2 separate regions of the Homo sapiens genome follow, and region 1 is linked to region 2. Evidence: fine-mapped expression QTL. A gene starts in region 2. The other region holds a variant in brackets. All regions are shown on one strand. Distances are from middle to middle.

Region 1 (4,380 bases), 58 kb before region 2:
TGCCCCAAACTTGAAACTCTAATGTCCTTCAACTGGTGAACTGATAAACTGTGGTACATCCATACTTCAGAATACTACCTAGCAATGGACTACTGCTGCTTGCAACAACATGGCTGAGTCTCTCTGAGTGAAAGAAGCCAGACTCCAGATTTCATTTATGTAACATTCTGGGAAAGGCGAAACCAGAGGGGAGAAAAATAAAACCACCACAGATTAGATTGGTGGTTGTGAGAAGCTGGCGATGGGGGAAGTTGTTGGCTTTAAAGGTATATGAGAGAATGTTTTGGGGTGATGGAATTGTTCTGTATCTTGATTGTGGTGGTGGTTACTCAACTGACGTGTCTGTCAAAAATCTTGAGTTGTATTTTACTTGGTGTAAATTGCACTTTAATAAACCTGAATGAAAAAAACAAAATACCAGGCTACAGGAAGGCCCAGGGAGATTTGCTTTCTGAAAAGATGGCCCTGTCACAGACTGATGGGTTCTTCTTGCCTGCTGCCCTGAAGAAAACAATGAGAACAGCAGGTTGTTGCAGCAAAGAAAGAGCTTAATAATCTCAGGGTAGGCCGGGCGCGGTGGCTCACGCTTGTAATCCCAGTACTTTGGGAGGCCGAGGCGGGCGGATCACGAGGTCAGGAGATCGAGACCACGGTGAAACCCCGTCTCTACTAAAAATACAAAAAATTAGCCGGGCGTGGTGGCGGGCGCCTGTAGTCCCAGCTACTCAGAGAGGCTGAGGCAGGAGAATGGAGTGAACTCGGGAGGCGGAGCTTGCAGTGAGCCGAGATCGCGCCACTGCACTCCAGCCTGGGTGACACAGCGAGACTCCGTCTCAAAAAAAAAAAAAAATAAAATCTCAGGGCCAGCCACATGAGCAGAACGGGAGAAACTTCTCAAGCCTGTCTTCCCGAGAATTCCAAGGCTAGGGTTTCTTTTTTTTTCTTTTCTTTTCTTTTTTTTTTTTTTTTTCTTTTGAGACAGTCTCTTGCTCTGTCTCCCAGGCTGGAGTGCAGTGGCGCGATCTCGACTCACTGCAAACTCTGCCTCCCGGGTTCACGCCATTCTCCCGCCTCAGCCTCCGGAGTAGCTGGCACTACAGGCGCCCGCCACCACGCCTGGCTAATTTTTTGTATTTTATTAGAGATGGGGTTTCACCGTGTTAGCCAGGATGGTCTCGATCTCCTGACCTCGTGATCTGCCCGCCTCGGCCTCCCAAAGTGCTGGGATTACAGGCGTGAGCCACGGTACCCGGCCAAGGCTAGAGTTTCTTAAAGGCACTCTGGCAGCCAGGGGGCTGGAGAATTGAAACAATTGATTGACAGGGGATAAGATCACAGGGGTGTCTAAAGCTGCCTTTGTGCAGCTGAGTCAGGTACTGGGAGGGGGTCTCAAGACCAGGTGGCATCTATCTCTTGGTCTGCCAAAATGCCAAATCTGAAAAAAAATCTCAAAAATATCTCAGATACATATGGGGAAGTTCTTTAGGTTTCACAATAGTGATGTTATATAGGAATAGCTGGGGAAGTTATAAATCTTGTGACCCCTGCTTACATGACTCGGGGGTAGTAAAAAACTTCTAGAAAAGCATGCTAAGTCATGGCAGGTTATTGCTTAACTATGCCTATTCTTCAGCAAAGTTAGAGCCCTTACCATGATTCTAACCATGTATTACGAATGCGACTTCAATCTCTGAACAAGGAAGGGGCAGTTTTTCTGGCCTCAAAGTTTAACTGTAAACCAAATTCCTCTCATAGTTATATTGGCCTCCAGACTAGAATAAGCAAAAAACCAATTTAGCCTGTGAGGTTAGAAGCAAGATGGAGTCTGTCATGTTAGATTTCTCTCATTACTTATAATTCTGCAAAGGCGATTTCAGTCCCTTCCTGGTGGTGAGATACATAGGAAGTGGGGCAAGGAGGATTAAGAATGACAGAATGTAGAGGTTCGCATCTTGCTAAAAGGAACAGAATAAGATGATGGCTAAGGGCATAACCTAATCCTAAGAGAGGCTGAAATGAAGTTTTGCTGGCCAGGGAAGGAAGCAGGAGCCGGATTGTAAATGTACTTAGGAGTGTGTTCATGTGGGCGGTGGAGGCATTGGGGAGTGGTGCTATCTGGAATGTACGGATTCCAGAAGGACATGGAGGCAGCGGGGAATAAGGACGGGCCTCGTATCAGCTGAACTGAGGTGTG[T/A]GCAGCACAGCACTGAGCCAGAAATGTACTTAGAGCCTCAGAGTCTATTCATTCCCTTCAAAGAAAACCCCTAGACAGCAACTGCAGTATAAATAGCAAACAAGCAAGCACATGGTTCTTCTGCATCAGAATGGAGAAAAGACGTTGATCCTGAGCAACCTGGAGTCCAGCAGCAGCCCTCCTGGGCCCCAAACCTTCCCAGTGGCCTCCTCAGCTCTCAGAAAACCAGCACCTTTCTCCCCAGCAAAGCCCACCCTACACAGACTGCTGAGCCTCCCACAGCCAAACAAGTGATGAATAGCAGCCCTCTCCCCAAGGGTTCTGCCCACAGAGGCGTGCGGGCTGCTTGCTAAATGGAAGCTACAAGACCTCTGGGGCTGCTGCAGTTTGTTTTGCTGCAGGCCTCTTGGCAGATGGTGTTTGCTCAGCCTGCCCTGCAAGCCAAAGTGAGAAAGTGGGATGCTTCAAGAGAACTAACCAGGAGCTAAGAAGGAGACATCAGAAGGGGCAAACATCCCCATGACAATGGCACATCAAGGCACGGGGTCCTCGGGTCCGGGGAACACAGACTTTAGGTCTCTCCTGGTATTCGGGTCCCTTGGGGTACAGATGCCAAGACTTAAGGGGAAGAAATGGGGCCCATACAAAGAGCAAGGGGGCCAATCTGGATCAAGAATGGCAACAACAGCTGTGGCAGACTTATAGCTAGGAGCAGAGGCTGGAGCTAGGCTGGGTTCAAATCCCAGCCCTGCCACTTAAAGGTTCTGTGCCCTTGGGCAAGTCGTTTTACCTTTCCTCATTAGCAAAATGAGAATAGTAATAGTACCTACTTCCTAGGGTTGCTAGGGAGACTAAAGGAGTTATCCCATGTAAAGTGCTTAGAGCAAGCCTGGCTGTTCCTAAGGACTCAGTGAGGGTTACCAACAATGAATGACTGTTTCCAAAGGGTCTTCCAAAAACCTTGCAGAAATTCTTGCTGCTTCTCATTAGGAAAGTGATGTCCTGGGGCTGGATTTATTTGTGGGACCAGGTTTGTTCTGCACTCCAGCCCCTCCCCTCCTCACTCAGCCCTCCAGGGTGCAGTTTCGGTGTTGCGGCTATGAATGTTTCAATATCTGATCCTTTCAGTCAACTGAGACTCTCTCCCCATGCAACAGTGTTGGGATCTGGTTACCACAAAGCCAGTACTTGTGTCCCTGATCAGCCACTTAACTTGCTTCCCTGCCCATTATTTCTCCCCCTATTTCCAGAGCTGTCGGGGGAATTGGGTGAATTGTACTTAAGCAGAAGAATGCCTGCATCTATTAAATGCTCCACAGTGCCTCTTCTGCCTTCATGGAACTTCAAGAGGCAGTCCCCACCCTGTCCCTAGCTCTCTATGTGAAAAGGGAACAAGGCTACATGTATTTCTTTTGTATTCCTGCGGTGCTCTGAGGTTTAGTGTTATCACATGGTAGGCTGGGTCTATCTGTGCTGAAAGAATGAATGAATGAACAAATGACAAACAAGGTAGGAAGGTAGGTGCAACAAGTCACTTGGGAGGGTCAACAAAGGAACCAAGGGCCTCTCTGGGGCTGGAGCACCACCAGCCCAGTTTCTCCGTGTTTTCAGGAGGAGAGGGTCTAGTGCTGGGCAGGACCTACCCTGTCCTACCCACCTCCAAGGGCCTCTTCCCTGGCTCTGAGTTCCTCTTCGGGGCCCCAGAACAGGCTCCCTGGTGCTAAAATGGAAGATGATGACTATTGGGCCTTTCTCTCCAAACCAGAGATGGTTAACTTTTTGACATAAGTACTGTTGTAATGCAAGAAACTCAAGCAGCCCAGAGGAGTGCAGAGTTCCTCAGTGTTGCCTGGGAACAGGGGCCTGGATGACTTCTTGGGCAGCCCTCTCTAAAAGCTCCTTTGGGAGCCCTCTTCTAGCAGCCTAAAACCTGACTGCTAGGGGCCATCCTCTGGGTGGGGAATATTTTATTTTATTTTATTTTATTTTATTTTATTTTATTTTATTTTATTTTATTTTATTTTATTTTATTTATGTTTTATTTCTGCTGCTGGAAACTCAGGGAGCCTGAGAGTTCTACTGTTCACTCATCAGCCACTTGTAAACTTATTTTTCCGAGGCTTCTAGCCTAGGAAGAACCTGAACACTATAAACGAGATCTTTCTCTGAAGATGCTCAGAGTGTGG
Region 2 (4,314 bases):
GCCTCGTCGCTGGGCCCCGCGCCGCTGCCGCCTCCGTCCGGGCTCTCGAAGATGTCGAGCGCCTCCTCGGCGTCGCGGTGCTGCCGGTAGGTCATCCAGCAGCAGGGTTCCACGTCGGTCTCGTCGATGCCCCAGAAGGTGAGCTCCTCTTCGAAGAGCGGCCCGCACACGTCCGCGGGGCAGTGCAGCTTGCCGGTGCGGTAGTAGTTGAGCACGTAGGCGAAGACGCCCGGGTGCCTGTCGAAGAAGAACTCGCAGCCCCCGCCGCCGCTGCTGCCGCTGCTACCCACACCGCCGCCATCGGTCTCGGGCCGGCCCCCGCCGTCGGGGTCGGCCAGCCAGGCGAGGCGGGTTCCCGGTAGGGTGCGCAGGGTGCTGCGGTAGGTCTCATGTCGCGTGCCGCCCACGTTGATGATGATCTTCTCCGACGCCTCGCCCTTGGCCATCTCCTCCTTCAGACATGTTTTGGACGGAGGCTTGTTCCCCGACTTGCGCCCGCGGTAGGAGGAGACACACACCGAGCTGATCATAAGAAGCGCTGCGGGGCTCCGGCTTGGGGCGGCCGCTGCCCTCCAAACACCCTTCCCGAGGAGGCAGCGTCAGACGGGGGAGGGGGAGGAGACGAAGAGGAGGCAGGAGGCGGTGGCGGCCCCCTCTGCGGCTTGGGCTTGCCCCTGCCTATCCCCCTAGGACGCGGAGCGGGAGGAGTTGGATTTCTCCGGTACACAGGTGGTTGGGGTTAGGGCAGGAAGCTCCGGAGAGAGGGAGGCGCAGAGAGGGAGGACCCGGGGAAGTAGAAGCAAGCACACACGCGGTCCCCCGCTACGACGGGACACACAAACGCTCTGGGCCGGGGACACGCCCCCGCCTTCACCCCGACCAAAGACGAGGAAGCGCACAGTCCACGCGCACCGCGAAGGTCCGGGGCGCTCGCGCTCACACGGGCCACCCTCCGGCTCCAAGACCGCACCAAGCCCCGGAATAGCCGGCTTCCCCGCAGCGGCGGCAGCGCAGCAGCAACAAGTCCTCCGAGCGGCTGCCGGGGCCAGGCCGACACTCTCACGGCAGCCGGAGCTCCGTGGGCCCGGGCTGCTTGCGGTCAACACGAGGCGGCGGCGGCGGCATGTGGCCTCTTCCCCCCATTCATAAATCCAGCGCCGGGCGAGGAAGGCAGGCGGGGCAGAGCAGAGAGCGGCGGCCGGGCGGGCGGGGGCTGCGCAGGGCGAGGCGGCAGCTGGAAAACAAGCGCGCCCGCAGGAGCGAGCCTCGGGTCCTGCGTCCGCGGCTGGGAGCTGCGCCGGACCGGGCGCAGCGCTGCGGGGGCCGCGCTGGGGCGGGGGTGCCTCAGACGGGGCGTCCTGCGCGGCGCCGAGCCTGGGGGGCGGGGCCGCTCTGGGGAGCCGGGCTCTGGGCACTGGCGAAGGTGTACCGGGGGCGGCGGCCGAGCGGCCAAGGACACCTGCAGGCTTCCCGGGCCGCGCGGAGAGGGAGCCTCAGCGCAACGCCCCGGCGCCTGGTTCCTGCGATCTGGCGGCGCTGGGAGCCACGCCATCTACGCGTCTGCCCATCTCCGGGCGGGGCGCCGGCCTTGGCTCGCGCGCGGCAGGGGGCGGGCGCGAGGTGGCATAGGGGAGGGGGCGCCTCGGCGCCGGTGGGCTGGGGCCCTAGGGGCTCATGGTCTCCCTCCGGCGCTGGCAGCGGCCGCCACGCCCCAGTGGCGCCTTTTCCTCCGGGGCCCCGCCTCGCCCAGACGCGCCCTTCGCGGGGCGGGGTGGGCGGGGCGCGGCGCAGCGCGGGGCCGATCCGACTCACTGCAGGCCCTGGCGACCGAGCGCAGTCTTCCTCCCCGGAGCCGAGCCCCAACCAAGCGCGTCACCTCCTCGCCGCCAGTGCCCAGCCCAGCGCGCCGCCCCTGCGCGCTTCCGCCGGCAACCCCTCCCGCCCCCCTCAGCCCTGCTCCGCGCCTCCCCCGGGCCCGCAGCTCCTCCCACCGCAGCCCGCTGACACCGAAGCGCTCTCGACCCCTGACCTCTAACCTCCGCCCGGCTCTTCTTGCTTCGTCCCTCGCCCCCTCCCCGCCAAGCTGGTCGCACTGTTGCCGTTTCACTGCGGCTGACGGAAGGCCAAGGAAGAAAGAGGGTAGAGACGCTGTCGCGAGGATCAGGCTGCCCTCTCCTTTCCCAGGGACCGTGTTGGGGCCTTCTGACCACCCCGCCCCGCATCCTGCGCCTCGGAGGCCCAACGTAGCCCAAGACACCCATGGTCTTGATGCTCTCCGCCTCTGTCCCAGCCACCAAAGTCCCCGCGATGGAATGGAGGACGGGGTGGCCTTGGGCAGAGAAGCGCTTCTTGTGCCGGATGGAAGGAAACCGTAGCTCTGGCTGTGTTCATCGCGAAATGTTTTATGGATGTGGAGTGGGTGGGTGGCCCTGAAAAGTCATTAGTTAAAGCCTTTGCTCGTCATTGCTCTGGGGTCCACATAGGAAATGCCCGTGTCCTGCCTCATGACCCCTTCCTGTTTCTACTCTTATTCTACCCATTACAATTTGACTTTGCCTGTGTATATGTCTCCTCTCCCCTCCCTAACCCTGAGCTCCTGCAGGCGGCATTGTGCTTTTTCATCTTGATAGCTCCCACAGTGCCTGCCTCTGAGAACCTGTTTGCTAAGTGATTGAGAAGCTGCCATACCCAAAACGTAGGCACCAACAGGACTTTACTGGCCCTATCCCAAGAGCAATTTCCAGATTCATTTGTTTTTGTTAAGTCCAGAACCTATTTTACATCTTCATATTAATCCCCATTGGGTTTTTTTTTCTTTTTTACAGCTTCAGGCAGCCTCCATGCCTGTCTGGATGATGTAAAGAGATCTTGAGGCAGAAATGAAAGGTGAATGACACACCTGCCCTGGACACCTGTGCACCTTCCCAGTTCCAGATCAGGCAGTACCTAGCTCAACTGAGAAAAACAAGACAAGGGCCTATGTGTGTCTCAGGAAAGGTTAAAAGCTCAGTGCCAATGCAAGGGATTTTTACAAGCAAAAGTCTCATTATTAATGAGGCCAGAAAACCAAAATGACAATGATCTTTGATGATCTGTACTGACACGCAGGGGAGGTGAGTTAATCAGAAACACACATTTACTGGCACCCCCTTTGTGCCCAGTCCCTGCTCCTCGAAACTGATGTTTGTATTTCAGAGTTTAGCTGTCTTTGAGTTTGCTGCAGTGAAAAGAAATATCCCAAGTGTGACTGGGAAGAGAAGACCCGGGACAGGCCAGAAACTGGAGTGAGGAAGAAAGAACCACAGAATATTAATGTAATGAATAACTTTCAAGTCCTATCTGGTCCGTGTCCTGGCAAAGTCCCTTGGGGTCTCTCCCCTGCTTTCCGTTCATCAGGATGACTGAGCTCAGTAATTGTAACAAAGGGAGTGTAGTAGGCAAGGGGACAAAACCCATAGTATCCCACCCCTGATTGACTTATTAACTCAATGAACACTTATTGAATACCTACGATATGCCAGAAGCAGTTCCGGGTACTGGAAATACATCAGTGAATAAAACAGCCACTCATCCTAGTAAATCTGCCCAACTGGTGCTTCCACTCTGCGGTGCTTGTGGATAGTGATGAGCACCTGGGGAGATGGGTAAAGGGAGAAAGCTGCCAGGGAAAAAGGAGGCCAAGAGGGAAGGGAGGAAGATCAGAAAGTTGGGACACAGGCATAGGAACCTAGGAAGAGCTGACAAAAACAGAGGGCCCAGCCTGAGAGAGGCAGCTGGGTAAAGGTGCATGGGGCCAGGACTCCCAGCTCTGTGCACTGACCAGCTCGGGAGAGGGGAGCTCAGCCTCAGTCCTGAGGCCTCCAGAGAATGCCTCACCCTTGCTGAAGGTTTATTCTAGAACTCTGGGCTCACCTGTTACGTGTACCTCTCTGAGGGAGTCGATATGCTGCAGTTAGCACTATGGGACTTGTCCCCATCATTTCTTTGTGTGAGGTCTTGGTGTTCCCTCAAAACACAGAGCCGGGGAAGGATAGGAGAGCCCCCTGCCCAGGCTACTGTGACACAGCCTACCATGGATGTGAGGGTGCTGCCCTCTGGTGGTGCTAGAACATCCTGGCTCCAGACCTCGCCCTGAGCTCTGGGGGCTGTGATGTGGGCAGATGGGGTGGCAGCTGATTCTGGGCTTCCTGTTGATTCCAGGACCTCAGGTACATCTTCTAGCCTAACTCTGCCATTGGGACTCTGCCTACTCCCTCCCTTCTTCATTCCTCCAAGACCTTGATACCTGACAGGCTTAAGCAAGACCACAAAGCA

Which allele goes with the higher level. Positions count from the first base shown, and alleles are read on the strand shown. Sizes are in standard deviations (SD) of each study's normalised expression.
For the expression in spleen of the gene that starts at base 1,716 in region 2, allele T in region 1 goes with a lower level than allele A (small effect, 0.34 SD a copy in GTEx).

Evidence for each region. PIP is the estimated chance that this variant, and not a neighbour inherited with it, causes the effect. A credible set is the group of variants that fine-mapping cannot tell apart.
Region 1: its variant is the best candidate, but not a certain one, in a credible set for the expression of KCNC4 in spleen (GTEx, PIP 0.56).

Annotation. Positions count from the first base shown.
Region 1 is chr1:110,265,201-110,269,580 of GRCh38, reverse strand. It overlaps a transcript of KCNC4 not described here. Among named protein-coding and RNA genes, the nearest start is that of KCNC4, 57 kb to the right of the region's middle. The variant T/A (reference allele first, on the strand shown) is at 2,195.
Region 2 is chr1:110,207,716-110,212,029 of GRCh38, reverse strand. It overlaps KCNC4 (potassium voltage-gated channel subfamily C member 4), which reads right to left and starts at 1,716. Exons shown (of 4, transcript NM_001039574.3): 1 at 1-1,716. The coding sequence starts at 530. KCNC4-DT (KCNC4 divergent transcript) reads left to right here and starts at 2,043. Exons shown (of 2, transcript NR_046546.1): 1 at 2,043-2,419; 2 at 2,826-3,580. RefSeq lists an enhancer at 1-119 and silencers at 1,357-2,036, 3,999-4,048, 4,059-4,118.